4 linked regions of the Homo sapiens genome follow. The protein of the gene in region 2 purifies or fractionates together with the protein of the main gene of each other region. This does not show direct contact. Each region holds a gene or a part of one and is shown on either strand. Other genes may lie near its edges.

The links.
Region 1: the proteins of SETD5 (region 2) and SMC3 purify together in Homo sapiens (affinity purification with mass spectrometry, with the first as the bait; one large-scale study listed by BioGRID). This does not show direct contact.
Region 3: the proteins of SETD5 (region 2) and MYO5A purify together in Homo sapiens (affinity purification with mass spectrometry, with the first as the bait; one large-scale study listed by BioGRID). This does not show direct contact.
Region 4: the proteins of SETD5 (region 2) and MYO6 purify together in Homo sapiens (affinity purification with mass spectrometry, with the first as the bait; one large-scale study listed by BioGRID). This does not show direct contact.

The regions. Positions count from the first base shown.
Region 1 is NC_000010.11:110,588,195-110,591,694, forward strand, and holds part of SMC3 (structural maintenance of chromosomes protein 3), read left to right. Parts: intron 1-1,410; coding exon 1,411-1,514; intron 1,515-1,697; coding exon 1,698-1,797; intron 1,798-2,217; coding exon 2,218-2,378; intron 2,379-2,796; coding exon 2,797-2,938; intron 2,939-3,500. UniProt on the Homo sapiens protein: Central component of cohesin, a complex required for chromosome cohesion during the cell cycle. The cohesin complex may form a large proteinaceous ring within which sister chromatids can be trapped.
Region 2 is NC_000003.12:9,434,802-9,439,984, forward strand, and holds part of SETD5 (histone-lysine N-methyltransferase SETD5), read left to right. Parts: intron 1-22; coding exon 23-81; intron 82-926; coding exon 927-1,105; intron 1,106-2,048; coding exon of another isoform or gene 2,049-2,087; intron 2,088-5,183.
Region 3 is NC_000015.10:52,375,381-52,378,880, reverse strand, and holds part of MYO5A (unconventional myosin-Va), read left to right. Parts: intron 1-2,322; coding exon 2,323-2,534; intron 2,535-3,420; coding exon 3,421-3,500. UniProt on the Homo sapiens protein: Processive actin-based motor that can move in large steps approximating the 36-nm pseudo-repeat of the actin filament. Can hydrolyze ATP in the presence of actin, which is essential for its function as a motor protein. Involved in melanosome transport.
Region 4 is NC_000006.12:75,881,739-75,885,238, forward strand, and holds part of MYO6 (unconventional myosin-VI), read left to right. Parts: coding exon 1-80; intron 81-3,500. UniProt on the Homo sapiens protein: Myosins are actin-based motor molecules with ATPase activity. Unconventional myosins serve in intracellular movements. Myosin 6 is a reverse-direction motor protein that moves towards the minus-end of actin filaments.

The sequences.
Region 1 (3,500 bases), on a different chromosome or scaffold from region 2:
TTGCCCAGGATGGTCTCCATCTCTTGACTTCATGAGCTGCCCACCTCGGCCTCCCAAAGTGCTGGGATTACAGGTGTGAGCCACCGCGCCCGGCCAATCTAAGATTTTGTGACTCAGTAGTAACATTGACTTTTTGTCAGTGGAATTAGTAGTAACATTGACTTTTGTCCATTAAAATTTTGGACAAAAAGTCAGTGTTACTACTGAGGATGAATAATTGTCAGTACTCTGTGGGAATATTTACAATTACTTTGATATCTGACAATAATTAGTTATAATACAAACAGATGAATGTAATTACTTTATGAAGCAGTTTGAAGCCCTTCCCCTGAAGGATGATCTTCAGCTTTATTTTGCTTGTCTTATTGCTTCCCAGTAAGGCAAGGATTTTTGTTTGCTTTGGTCTTTTATGATTCCCCAGCTCTTCTAAGAATGCCTGGTACATACTGGGGTTTTGGTAACTTCACTAAGTGGATGAAGTGTCAGCTTCCTTAAACTCTAGCCAGTGAGGCTATTGGATTTTTTCAGCTCAGTATAGTCTACTAAATTAATGAATACAGTTCATTAATTCTCCTTAAGGAAACAGCATCTTACGTTAGGTTCTTAGAGATTTGTTATAGGTTCTGCCAAGATTTTTAACTCATTTTTCTTGAATGTAAAATAGTTGAAAATAGTTTTTGTGTTCTGTTGTGTGTGTGTGTAGAGGGGGCAGTATGAAAGTATATAATGGACTATTATGAGAACTTAGAATTTTTTTTCTAAAATTCTGGAGTGTATATTATAGAAATAGGAAGATTTAGATCACTAATGAACAAATTAACTTTTAGCAACATGTTTTATAGTATTTAATGGTTTGTGTTTTCTGGTGTGGTATGCTCTTTTGCCTAAAGACAACTTTTAAAAACTGAAATGGGGCCGGGCGCAGTGTCTCACGCCTGTAATCTCAGCACTTTGGGAGGCCGAGACGGGCGGATCATGAGGTCAGGAGATCGAGACCATCCTGGCTAACACGGTGAAACTCCGTCTCTACTAAAAATACAAAAAACAAAAAAAACAAACTGAAATTGGATTTTTCAACAGCATCATTGAGGTATAATTCACATACAGTAAATTGTACATATTTAGTGTACATCATTTTTCCTAGTCAGGAAAGTGGCAAAAATAAAGTATATAATTTGATGAGTTTTGACATACGTATACATCTGTAAAACACCACACAGTTAAGACACCACACACCACAGTTAAGACAATAAACACGTTTATTACCCAAAAGCGTTTTCCATACCCCTTTGTAATTCCTCCCTCACCTTTTGTCCGCCTCCCCCATCCATCTGCAACCACTGATCTGCTTTCTATCAGTGTAGATTAGTTTCATGAAATTGAATTTTAAATTTATTTTTATTTCCATAGAAACTGGACCAGGATCTTAATGAAGTCAAAGCTCGAGTAGAAGAACTGGACAGAAAATATTACGAAGTAAAAAATAAGAAAGATGAACTACAAAGTGAAAGAAAGTTAGTATAGACTAAAATGTGCATTAATGTTTTCAGTAATGTTCGTTACTAGCTGTTATGTGGTCTTTAAGTTACAAGTTAACCGGTCAGGCTTGTTTTCTGTATTTTGATTCTAAACTGTATACTGTTAATGCATCCTCATATGTGTTTAAAATTAAAGACAGTCTACTTTTTATTTATTAGCTACTTGTGGAGAGAAGAGAATGCAGAACAGCAAGCACTTGCTGCTAAAAGAGAAGATCTTGAAAAGAAGCAACAACTTCTTAGAGCAGCAACAGGAAAGGTGGGCAGGTTCTTTTCATCACCTCTGTTTACACTGAGTCATTGAGTTAATCGTTATGTAATAATTTTTTACCTTTCAAGGTGTAGGTCATGGGTTCCAAGTGATAAATAGGAGTCCAAATTATCTTCTAAATATGAAATGATAGAGATTAAATAGTTTTATTACTACACATACTATTAATAGCACTTTTGATGTTCAGATAAAGAGCCCATTTTTAACACTACTGTTATGGAACAGAGCCTATCATATAAGGTGTTACATGTAGTTGGCATATTGTGAGGAGGTGATGTGTTTGTTGGAGAGGATGTTTAGTTTAATCACTGGTATATTTTTAAAATGTATGGTGTTGTGGGCTCATTCCTTACCAGGAGTGCCATTGATGATATTATTTTAATATTTTTCATTTCTGACAACTTACAGGCCATTTTAAATGGAATAGACAGCATAAACAAAGTGCTAGACCACTTCCGTCGAAAAGGAATAAACCAGCATGTTCAAAATGGCTATCATGGTATTGTAATGAATAACTTTGAATGTGAACCAGCTTTCTACACATGCGTGGAAGTCACTGCTGGAAACAGGTTAAAGCTTTTGCTTGATATTTAGCATTTTTAGAAGAGGGAATAAGAATAGCTTAAACAACTTTTGTAGTTTTTGTACAACATATCTTCCATTATCTTTTTATATCTCGGTTCCTTAACTTTCTAATTAAAGAAGTAGATGCTAAGTATTTGTTCCTAATTATAGAAGCTAGAACTTTCCTCTTTTGGGAGTTTCTCCCTCCCCGCCATTGGAATTTTTAAAGTAGTCTTATTTTCCAAAATTATTTGGATTATATAGGAAAAAACTGTTTGATGCTTAAGTGTTTATAACATTTTAAAAGTGCACACCTTTAGTCCCAGCTATGCAGGAGGCTGAGGTGGGAGGATTGATAAGTTTGGGCAACATAGGGAGACCCTGAGTACCAATAAAGATTTGTCTTACTCTGTTTATATTTAGGTTATTTTATCACATTGTTGATTCAGATGAAGTCAGCACGAAGATTTTAATGGAGTTTAATAAAATGAATCTTCCTGGAGAGGTTACTTTTCTGCCTCTTAACAAGTTAGATGTCAGGGATACAGCCTATCCTGAAACCAATGTGAGTCATTGTGTGATAAGGTGTATTTCTCTTTTATAATGTTATTTTTTATCACATAATCTAACACATGCTAGTGCCCAGGCACTATACACTGGGATTCAGTGGTGTATGAGATAAAAATATCTGTCTTCCCATGGACCTTAGTGCTGAGTGGGTTTTGGGGAGGGAGACAGAAGTCACAGCTATGATTGGTGTGGTGATGCACGCCTGTAATCCCAGCTACTTGGGAGGCTGAAGTGGGAGGATCATTTAAAAAGAAGAGAAAAAAGCTAAGATATGAAACAAATCATTGCAAATGTGCAGTGTTAAAAGCGTAAGTACAGGATACTTTGAGAGCATATCTGGGAGTGACATAATTAAGGTTAGGGAGTTGGAGAAAGATTCCCAAGGAACTGTCATGTATAGTTTAAAAGTGTCTTGACGTACTTAGGATTAAATGAAAAAAATGGCTAGTAAGGTGATAGACTTCGGAAGCATAACATTGCTTTTGTTGGTAACAAAAGTGCACTTTAGGTGGATTAAAAATATTCTTCAGACACCATTCTTAGAACAGTGTAATTGC
Region 2 (5,183 bases):
TAAGTTTATTTTCCCTCTTTAGGGGAATGAGCAGGGGGAAGGTTATTAGACTTCATCGGCGGAAGCAGGACAACATATCAGGTGAGCGGAAGATGGGTTAGGTCCACAATTTGACATAAAAATATTCTGTGATCTGAATGTTCATTTTAAGAACCCCTCTTGGCCAGGCGCAGTGGCTTACGCCTGTAATCTCACCACTTAGGGAGGCCAAAGCGGGCGGATCACCTGAGGTCGGGAGTTTGAGACCAGCCTGACCAACATGGAGAAACCCCATCTCTACTGAAAATCCAAAATAGCCAGGTGTGGTGGCGCATGCCTGTAATCCCAGCTACTTGGGAGGCTGAGGCAGGAGAATCGCTTGAACCCGGGAGGCGGAAGTTGCCATGAGCTGAGATTGCGCCAGTGCACTCCAGCCTGGGCAACAAGAGCAAAACTCCCTCTCAAAAAAAAAAAAAAAAAAAAAAGAACCCCTCTTACAAGTTCCCATGGTCCCCCAGCCAGCTCTTTTCACAGAAAGAGATAGAAGTCCTCTCAAGACCACTGTATAGTTCTCTCATTGTAAACGAAATGTGTTGAGAACAGTTTAGTCCTGTAGCAAAGTATTCCTTGTGAACACAAAAAATATGGATTCCTGTTTTAAAAATTAGCCAGTCTCAAATTGTTATAGATTGAGTCAGCGAAGCTTAGGGACTGAATACAAGGGGAGAAATAAATACCATGAGGAACAGGGTTTATATGCTTAATGCCAATGACATAGAATCTTGTTTTCTTAAGGAAGATGAGTATTTAACGTTGCTTTACAGATGATAAGAGTTAATAGTGGAAGTAATGGCTTACTGCATGTGGGGCACACCTAAAAGAATAAGCTACTTTTAATGTACTTTTGAGGCTATTAGTACCTGAACTATGAAATCATCATTTTTCAGGTGGGGATAGCAGTGCAACAGAAAGCTGGGATGAGGAGCTTTCTCCTTCCACTGTGTTGTATACAGCAACACAGCACACACCTACAAGCATCACCTTAACTGTTAGAAGAACCAAACCCAAGAAGCGGAAAAAGAGTCCAGAAAAGGGTCGTGCAGCACCAAAGACGAAGAAAATCAAGGTATGCAGGGTAAAAATATCTTAAATAGAAATTGTCTGAAATAGCTTAAATTTTGGAGCAAGAATGCACCAAAATTCTTTTAAGAAGTTTGATCCAGGTGTTTGAAGGGCCACTTTTGTTCTACTTGCAAAAATCAGCTAATCTGTGTTATGTACATGTAGACCAACCTCTCTTCTGCCACACCATATCATCACCACTGGCTCAAAGTTTCTTCTACTCCAGTCCCCATCCCAGGTATGAAATTCCAGCCCTACCTGGCACAATCCCGTATGTGTTGCAGCCTCAAGTCTAGGCTTCCACTATCCTTACAGTATCTCCCCACCTCTCAACCCCAAAGTACAGTCTGAAATTCTTGTCCTGGTTACATGCCTCATGTCTTTGGGTTGATTGTTTTTCCTTGTTTCAAAAAAAATAAAAATCAGGAAACATCTCTTGTATGGTCTAGGTTTCCTCAGTGTCATGGTCACTTTCCTGTATTCTCAGCTAAAATGTCTACGGGAGAAACTTCTTCTGGTTTGTGTTCTTTCTTCCCCATCACAGCAACTTTGTTGCTTCTAGGTGACTTGTTCATCCCTTGTTAAGGGGATTGGTCTTTGTTTCCTTCTTAGTTTCAAAACTGGTAAATCTGCAACTTTAAAGTTTTTTTTTATTTACTTTTTCTCTTAGTATCAGAGGTGCATATAGGATTTAAGAGATGCATGCTCTTCCCTGTTAATTACCTAGCTTCACAGTAGAAAGTATTAAAATTAGTCTCAGAGTTCATTGGCCTTGAGCTACCCCTATTCTTGGTAATAGTTTGGGGAATTCCATTGTATTTTTTACCTAGAGAAAGGGGGACAGAATAGAACACTAGTTTGTGCCTTAGTTTTAGTCTCAGATAGGTATAACTGTCATTCTTGGTACCAAGTTTTGTTTGTTCTACTTGTTTTCCTCCTTGGGATAGGCATTTCGAGAGGGATCCCGGAAGTCCTTGCGGATGAAGGTAAGGGGTAATCTTCGCTGATGCTGTGTTTTACTTCACTGTGATCTTGCATTTTGGTCAGCTTCTTTCCTGACATTGATGGTCTGGGAATCTTGGACTCTGCTTTTCATTAGTTTGTAGTTGTTGCCATTCAGTTTTCATAGAGCTTTTCTCCAAAGTAGATTTTCTTGGCCATTTTCTGAAATATTTTCCCTTTCTGTAATCAGCCTTCATTGATTGGTTTTTCATTCATTGCTTTCCTAGGGGGTAAGTGACATTTTTCCAAACAAAATGAGGCTAGTGTGTTCTGTCACTGTGATTGAACTCAACCTTAGGAGTGGAGTTTTTCTGGTAATGATACAGGATCTCTTGTGCATCTACCCTAGCACTGTGTGGGCTTTAATTGCAGGACGCTTGTATTATTGATAAGAATTACTGTTTTCTCTTAGCATATCTGTTTGGTGGAAAAAACTTAGGTAATGCTAGCATGTTTCTTAAGATATCAAATAAAAGAGTTTATGAAGTATGATTTTGTAAAGAACTTGGAGAATAGAGCAAGTATGTGGAATGGTTTAAAAGAAGTGTAAGGTGCTGGTTGATTAAAAATAGCTTGCCAAAAGGAGATTTGATTATGCTGTCTGGTATCCTCCTTTACGTGTGTGTGTGTGTGTGTGTGTGTGTGTATAAATATATATATATGAGGAAAACATGCCTCTCAAATTATTACTGGGGGCTTCAAAGCATTTAAATAGAATTAAATTCAAGTTTATGAGTATTCATATTCCTAAATGATACAAAAGCAGGATCTTTCCTATTGAGAGTTATAGGGCATAAATATTAAAATCTTTAGTAAGGCCAGGCGCAGTAGCTCACGCCTGTAATCCTAGCACTTTGGAAGACCAAGGCAAGTGGATCACCTGAGGTCAGGAATTCAAGACCAGCCTGGCCAACATGGTGAAACCCCATCTCTACTAAAAATACCAAAATTAGCCAGGCGTGGTGGCAGGCACCTGTAGTCCCAGCTGCTTGGGAGGCTGAGGCAGGAGAATCGCTTGAACCCAGGAGGCAGTGGTTGTAGTGAGCCGAGATCACGCCACTGCACTCCAGCCTGGGCAACAGAGCAAGACTCCATCTCAAAAAAAAAAAAAAATTCAGTAAGGATAAGCTTTTTAGGATTGCTTTATGTGCAGCACCAGTGTGACTGGTGTTAGCAAAGATTACAGGTAGCACTTTACCTAAAGTTTGAAGGCCCCACTTAGTATCTATCTTTAAACAGACTTGCACATACCTGTGAAAGAGTTGGGAGAGGACTCAGAGCTACAGAGCATCAGAGGCCTGGGATGTGTCTTGGAAGACAAATCAATCATGCCTTTGCTGGATCCGTCTCTTGCAAGTGGCCAAGTTTGCTTTAGCTTCCCCTTTATTTTTGTCTCATTTGCTTAGAGAGGGGCCTTTTAAATAGACTTTGGAGGCAGATAATAGCCCTAATCCTGGCTACTAAATGCTTTTCTCTTATCAAGCAACTATCATAACTTATCTCCAGAAGCTCGAAACCTTTCAAAAGCTATAAACTGGCTCTACCAGAAAACTGCACATAAACCCCATATTTTGCTTACAGTTTTGGGAGGTTGACAGCCTCACAGGTGTGTTAAAATTTAGAAAAAAAAATTACTAGTCATTTTGATTCTTTTAATTCTAAATTGAGTTATAAATTTTATGCTCAGAATTACTAGTTTAAAACTCCTCCAGTGATCCAGGTGGGAGCCATAAGAATTAGAAAAAATTATCATTTGGATTTTTAATCCCAGTGTCAAGAGCAGCTTCCCTACTGAAGACTTAATTGTAAATCAGGGTTTCTCAGTCTTGACACTGTTGACAGTTTGGACCAGATAATTCTTTGTTGTGGAAGGGACTGTTCTGTGCTTTCAAGATGTGAACAGGATCCCTGGTGTCTACCCACTAGATGCCGGTAACACTCATACACTCAGTTGAGATTATCAAAAATGTCTTCAGATATTACCAAATGTCACCTGGGTGCAAAATTTCCCTCAATTGAGAACCACTACTCTAAACCCAACTGAGGTAGAGTCTCTAATGCCTTGAAGGATGGGACAGCAGAGTAAACACACAGTGAGATTAGCGAACAATGGCTAATACTGTGACAGAGGCTTCCAGAATACAGTACACTTATCAAGTGTAAGTTTAACAATTGCCACTTAAAGCTGGGAATATTGTTTGGACACTGCCAGTCCCCCTAGTCTGTAAGCTCCATTAAGCCTAAGGTTTTGCACTATTCTTTTGCGCAACTGCTACTGATGTCAAGCAGGCGATACTCTGATTGTCAGTATGTTGGCTTTAGGTGTTTCTTTAGATCCCTTTGTTTATTGTTCAGTCTTTTGGACTCTAGTAAGAAATGTGGAGACAATAGTGTTGATTTTTTTTCTTCTATACTCCTGTTCCTTGCAGAAAGGATAGTAGACAATAATCAGTCAGCAACAGTGATGCAAAAGTGGTAAAAGAAAGTGTTATGATAAGCATCAGTGTTTTCTGTGCCATTCATAGAAAGTATATTTAATTTTATTGTACCTGTTTGCAAGTTTAATGTGGACATGGATTTTCAAGTAGCTTTGGTACTACAGTGTCTTTTCCTTCTAATCATCACTAGCATGACATCATCACTGTCAGTGTTTGTTTTGTTTTCTGATGGCACTTAAGTCTTGAACACCGTGGAGGAGAACATGTATTGGGCTTATGCTTTGTCTCTGTAGCTCAGGCACTGTCTGCCTAGGAAGCTGTTCCTGAGTTGTAGTAATCTTTTCTCAATACTGTCACCATAGAGGGCAATGGTTTTCCTAGAGGAGTATAGCAAAGTACCTCCTAGACATTTTCTATATTCTCCCTACCTACTCCTCTCCCCTCACTTCACCTCTTCAGATTATTTAGAATGTGGTAATTTAAATTGTTGAAAATAGAGTGTTAGAAAGATATACTCAAATAATAACTTTTTATATGGGTAGTAAGATTGGGATTGGATTAATGAGATTGATTGATTAAGATCACATCTAGGTTTAGAATGAACATGTATTATGAAAATAATAAGTGATACAAAAACATGCA
Region 3 (3,500 bases), on a different chromosome or scaffold from region 2:
GCCATCAGAATTTCTGATTCAGTAGGTCTGAGGTTGGGCCCAAGAATTTGTATTTCCCGGGTGATGCCGATGCTGTCTGAGGACTATATTTTGAGAACTACTGATCTTGGTCTTAGAGAATTAAAGATTCATGAAAAGTTTTTAAAATAATATTTTCACTTGGTTAACACTATCCTAGATGGAGTACCTCACTTTGAGCTAATTGATCATAATTACTAGCTGTGAACTAAATGTGATGCCTTTTTTTTGTTAATAATATTTTTTCCTTGAAAGAGCTAAGGCCACTTCCTCAGCAATGCTTTTTTTTTTTTTTTAACTGGGGCTTTTTGAGTTTGCCCCAATTCCCTTCTTTTTTTTTTTTTTTTGAGACAGTCTTGCTCTTTCACCCAGGCTGGAGTACAGTGGCATCTCGGCTCACTGCAACCTCCGCCTCGTGGGTTCAAGCCATTCTCCTACCTCAGCCCCCCCAGTAGCTGGGATTATAGGTGCACACCACCACACCCAGCTAATTTTTGTATTTTTAGTAGAAACAGGGTTTTACCATGTTGGCCAGGCTGGTCTTGAACTCCTGACCTCGTGATCTGCCCGCCTCGGCCTCCCAAAGTGCTGGGATTACAGGTGTGAGCCACTGCGCCCAGCCTGCCCAATCCCCTTCTAACCTGTGTTCAGGTGGGAATGTAGAGCAGAAAGTAGGAACAGGCCTATTCCTGGTCCTCTCACCCAGGCCATTTCAGGCCTGGATCAGGGCTTTGTGGGAATTTAGTTAGGCAGAGGAGGCTGAAAGATGGAGGCAGGGTTGGTGTGAGGTGTGAAGCGGGATGCGGGTAAGGACCACTTTTCTAGCTAGGTTTCCAATGTAAACTTTATTGATTTAAATTGAAATAATTGTAGATTTTTTAGATATATGTGGATGTGTCAGATTTTTTGGTTTCATATATGAGATAATATGAGATATCTACTCATAGGGAAAAATGATTTTCTCTGTTTTCCCTTAGACTTTCAGATCACATGGCCAAGCATGGTGGCTCACGCCCTTAATCCCAGCACTTTTGGAGGCCGTGGCGGGCGGACTGCTTGAGGCCCAGCGTTTGAGGCCACCCTGGCCAATATGGTGAAACCCTGTCTCCACTAAAAATACAAAAATTAGCTGGACGTAGTGGTGTTTACCTGTAATCCCAGCTACTCAGGGGGCTGAGGCAGGAGTGTCGCTTGAACCCAGAAGGCGGAGGCTGCAGTGAGCCGAGATTACAGCACTGTACTCCAGCTTGGGAGACAGAGCGAGACTCATCTCAAAAAAAAAAAAAAAGAATTCCAGGTCACAGTAATGATTCTTACATATAAATTCCATTCTTTGATGCAAGAATGATTAATGATTTGCATACTTCTAGATAAGGTGAATCACAATGTAATATAAATTATTATGTTTTTGTAAAAGGAGTTTGAAAGGATTTTTTTTTTTTGAGACGGATTCTTGCTCTGTTGCTAGGCTGGAGTGCAGTGGCGCGATCTTGGCTCACTGCAACCTCCACCTCCTGGGTTCAAGCAATTCCCCTGCCTCAGCCTCCCAAGTAGTTGGGAATACAGGTGCATGCCACCATGCCCGGCTAATTTTTTGTATTTTAATAGAGACAGGGTTTCACCATGTTGGCCAGGATGTTCTCGATCTCCTGACCTCATGATCCGCCAGCCTTGACCTCCCGAAGTGCTAGGATTACACACGTGAGCCACTACACCCGGCCAATTTGTAGGATTTTAAACATATTTATGGGGTTTTGTTAGTTTGTTTTCAGATATTATTGATAAAGCCAAGAGCTAACTGTTTAGAAACATAACTCAATATGAATACCCAAGGATTTTGGTTTTTGGTTTTTGAATTTTATTTCATAAACGTTTCTTCCTGCCTTATTCTTCACACTGGTGTTTTTGTCCCTTCAGCTTCTCATGGAATATACAGCCCGCTGTAATCCTTACAACCTGGGTCAGTCAGAGAGAGTCAGCATCTCCATTTCCTTGAGATGTTTAAAACACAAACAAGCAAATAATAACTGCCTATAACCCACAACCAAGTTTTGGGCCTCAGATAATAATTCCAGGTAGAATAATTCTGGAAAATAACTCTTAAACTGCAGTTTTTCTTAAAATCCCTTCTATTTGCTCAACTTGCATAGGATTAAAAATCTGGCTCCATTAGTTAATTGTGATGTAGCCCAAGTTTTAGCTAATAGAGTCATTCCTTTACTGATTCTGCTTTTAGACATTTTTTCTTTTAAATTTCACTTATATGATTATTATTTCTGAATATACAATTTCTTCCAAAAATAGGACAAGGACAAATACCAGTTTGGTAAGACAAAGATCTTTTTCCGTGCCGGTCAAGTGGCCTATCTAGAAAAATTGAGAGCTGACAAACTGAGAGCTGCCTGCATCCGGATCCAGAAGACCATCCGAGGGTGGCTGCTGAGAAAGAAGTACCTACGCATGCGGAAGGCAGCCATCACCATGCAGAGATACGTGCGGGGCTACCAGGCCCGATGGTAGGTCTCCTGGGGACAGAGTAGAGTGCCCATCTAATTCACTGTCCAACCAAGGACAGTTTTGACTGGTCACCATAGCTGAAAAGATAACACCTCACCTTTTCTTAGTTCCAAGGGACAACAAATTAACTCATAGGACAGCTAAATAGAATAAAATTTCACTCAGCCTTATGAATGATTCAGATTTATCTTCAAAACATTTACAAACTGCTGCTTACTTATGTCCTCAAAATTTTTATTTTTGATACTTTTATATTGGGCTTGAGGAAATCATGTATCAATTAAAACAGTCGTGAATATGAGCTAGGTAATAATGACTTCATTGTATAATTTTTGGGAGCAATTAACTGAGAGGGTCTGGAAGAGAATTACACTTTAGTGTGATTACTTATTAGTTTAATTTTAATTGAGAAGTATAAGTAGAACTGAATTAATCATGAGCTTATAGCCTAACAAAATCAGGAAAAATATGGTAGATGAATAATGGCTAGATCCAAGAAAGCTGGTGATAACTAAGTATGAGATTACTGTGTATGTCTGTCTGTTCTATAAAGAGGCATGGCCTGGGGTAAATGGATCCTGTTGTAGAAAGAATGAATTTTTGTGAATTTTGCTTTCTTGTAAAATCTGGCAATGTGGGCCATCCTACTTTCCAGAGTTAGGGAGGGCTCAAATGAGATAATAAATGCAAAAATACTTTGGGAAACTATAAATTGCTATACAAATGTAAGTAAATATAAATGTTGACTTAGCATGCACATTATTAGAATAATACAATGGAGGTACTATTTATGCCTAAAACAGTGACACTCTTTAAGTTTCTCTAATATGTATTCCTGCATTTTTTTCTGATTACTGACAACATAATGTTATTTTCTTTGGCCAGCTATGCTAAGTTTCTGCGCAGAACCAAGGCAGCAACCATCATTCAAAAGTACTGGCGCATGTATGTGGTCCGCAGGAGGT
Region 4 (3,500 bases), on a different chromosome or scaffold from region 2:
GTTGGTTAAAAGAGTCAATCACTGGCTCACATGCAGTCGCTGGAAGAAAGTTCAGTGGTGCTCACTCTCAGTCATCAAATGTAGGTGTTTTCCTTTACACCTATAGGATCTTTCATTGTTTCAAGATGGTTTGTGGAGTGTTGTAAAGCTGTCTCAGAGGTGATGCTGAGCAACAGAGACTGAGACTTGTTCACACTGGGTCCCAGGTTCCTATTTGTAGATGTTCTTTCTTTTTTTATTTTTTGAGTGTATGATATTTATTTTCTTTATTCAAATGTGTTATAAGAGTGTCAGTTTCATAGTGTCCTAACAAAACAGAATTCACTATCTTGATCTCTCGTCCCCGCACCCCTCACCATCCCCTAATCTCTCAGACTTAAACCAGAACTTTTCTTTCTGCCTGCATGGCATCTACAATACACATACCCCGAAAATTCTAATTGTAATTGATTTTCCTTTCTTATCCCTGAAATATTGTCAGTCACCAGATCCTGTTGATTCCTTCTCCAAATACTGTACATTCCTTTCTTTTTCTTGCCAGTGCCTTAGTGAAGTCCTTTTCCACCTTTTGCATAATAATTCCATTAGCTCCCAGACTGGTTTTCCTGGTTTCTTAGAGATATCTCTCTAAACTAGAAGCCTTTTATAACTTTCCTTTCATAAAAGGTGAAGTCTAAATTATTTGATGTCTTTCAAGATCATGTAAAATGGTGTGTCAGTTTTTTGTTTCAGTCTCTTCCCCCACCATCCCCTCTTAAATCCTGTTTTTTGAACGGAAGTCTGTCATAATCCTGAAAGACACTGTCTTGAACACCATAATCCCAAATGTTGAAATCTTAAAAGATGAAAGTCCCAAAACTAGGATTCTGTAAAAATAATAAAAAAAGATATTTATTTACATTTTAAAAAGGGGATTTGAGAAACGTATAAAAACATGACAGAACTCTTCATAGGCCACTTTTCACAATAAAATAGGCAATAACATATATATAGGCAATAAACATATATGTTTATTGAAACTATAAACACATATACTAACAATAGTTGCATGGGTATAACAGGAGCAGACAAACCGTATTCATAAAGAATAGGGCGAAAGGTGAAATGCATAAACACATATTATTGTGGTTGGTAATTGTGCACCCAGCTTTGTTACTGCAGTCATCTGAAATACTGTGATGATGAACAAGCTGTCTTTTGATGAGATCAGTCAAAAACCATAGTGAGTCACCACTGCATTTGTAGTTGCCCAGAGAACTGAAATCTTGAGAAATTTTATCTTTTACAAGTGCAGATGTATGATAAAGGACATCTGTTCATTGATTAAGTTTCAGTGTTTTTATATACATACACAATGTTTACCCAGAAAGTAAATGTTGTGGTAATGCATTTTCATGGAGTTAAATTTGCAAAAAATGAATACAGTAAATTAGAACTCTCCAAAAATTTCTACATAATTAAAAAATGCTAACAATTTAAGATAGTGAAAATAAAAACAAAGAAAAAAAAAACACCCAAAACTAAAAAGGAAGTTTGACATAAAAAAAAGTGTATCACAGGGACAGATTATAGGCAGTTGCATGGAGATAGTCCATAGAGCTGGCTGTCTTTCTCAGTCATTAACTATATTTTGAAGTCTTGTACCACGAATAATAGGTGCTTTTTTTCTTTTAGGACATGGTTCTTGGAGAATATGTTCATATTCATTTTCTTCATGAGATTGCTCTTTTTGGAATTCTTCTGTGATTCCTCTGATTGGGATTTTTAGGATTTTTGATGTTAGGGATTTTAATCTAGGAATTTTGATCTTTTGGGATTTCAACATTTGGGATTATGGCTTTTGGGATTAGGAATTCAAACCCCTTTGACATACTGGGCTAAGCTGCTTTTATGTGTGGTTTGGCCAGGTCATAGCAGCTACATAGCTGGCCCAAGACAAAAGTGAGGGACAGAACATTTTGGGGTTACCTAAGGATCTGTGGCAAACCTTTAATTGTTGGGAGCTGTGTAGGAATCAGTAACTTGATTACATTTACAGTTGCCCCTTATACTCATCAGAGTACCTGAAATAGTGCTAGGTACATGAAAAGGATCCAGCGAATTTTTCCTTATCAGTAGAAAAGGAAAATTCTTTTGGCCTAATGAAAAAGAATCATGCTAACAAAGATTATTTTTGAGGTATTTTGTTAGACAATTGTGAATATAGATAAAAAGAGAACTATTAATATAAAAAGAAAAAAGATAGCAGAATCTTTTCCCCATCATTTTCCAAATAAAATACAGAAACATCTTTATTACTGTAGTTTAATACGTTCAGCTTTACACATTGCATTATGATAGGAAACACATTATAGTAAACTCATCTGTTACACCATTCATTTGTGGACTGTGTTCTACAGTGGTACCGAAGTCAGTAACCGGGCAGGGATCTTTGCAGAATGTTAATAGGAAACTCTGAAAAAAAAGTTCAAGGTCAGATCATCCTAGGAAATTGTGAGTAACTGAAGTTAAGTAGATTTCTTTGCTGTAGGATTCTCAGAGGCTTCACTCAGTATGTTCATTGTGAACCTCCATACAGAAGTATAGTGTACAGCTTTTCATAAACTCATTTGACAGGTAAATCCTTTTTTCAGGACATACCTATTCACATTTCATAGAACAAATGTTGCCTAAGACAGTTTGGGAGGTAGCAGTGTAGCATACTAAGGAAATAATGCATTTAAAATGTAAGCCTAACCAGATACATGATATTGTAACTGCCCAGTGGGTTCTCCTTGCCCACTACCCAGACAGAGCTGATTTATCAAGATAGGAATTGCAGTAGAGAGACAGTAATTAATGTAGAGTCGGCTGTACGGGACACTGGAGTTTTATGATTACTCAAATCAGTCTCTCTGAAAACTCGGAGATCTGAATTTTTAAGGATAATTTGGTAGGTAGGGGCTTGGGTTGGAGATGAAATCATAGGGGGTCAAAATTGAGTTTTTCTTGCTTGCTTCTGTTCCTGTGTGGGAGCACAGAACTGGCTGGGCCGGATTACCTATCTAGGTGGCATCAGCTGGTGCATTGGAAGGTCTGCAAAATATCTGGAGCACTGATTTTAGGTGTTACAACTGTGATGTTATACCTGGGAGCAATTTGAGGAGGTTCAGATTCATGCAGCTGGAGGCTGTGTGGCTCCTAAACCGTAATTTCTAATCTTGGAGCTAATTTGTTAGTCCTACAAAGGCTGACTGGTTCCCCAGGCAAGAAGGGGGTTTATTTTGGGAAAGGGTTATTATCATGTTTGTTTCAAAGTTAAACTTTAATAAACTAAGTTCTTTCCCAAGATTAGTTCGGCCTACACCCAGGAATGAACAAGGACAGCTTAGAGGTTAGAAGCAAGATGGAGTTGGTTAGGTCAGATCTCTTTTACATAATTTCCTTGGTTGTAATTTTTGCAAAGGCAAAATTACATCTTTCAACATCTTTTTATTTTTAAGAAGAATAAGAAATTATAG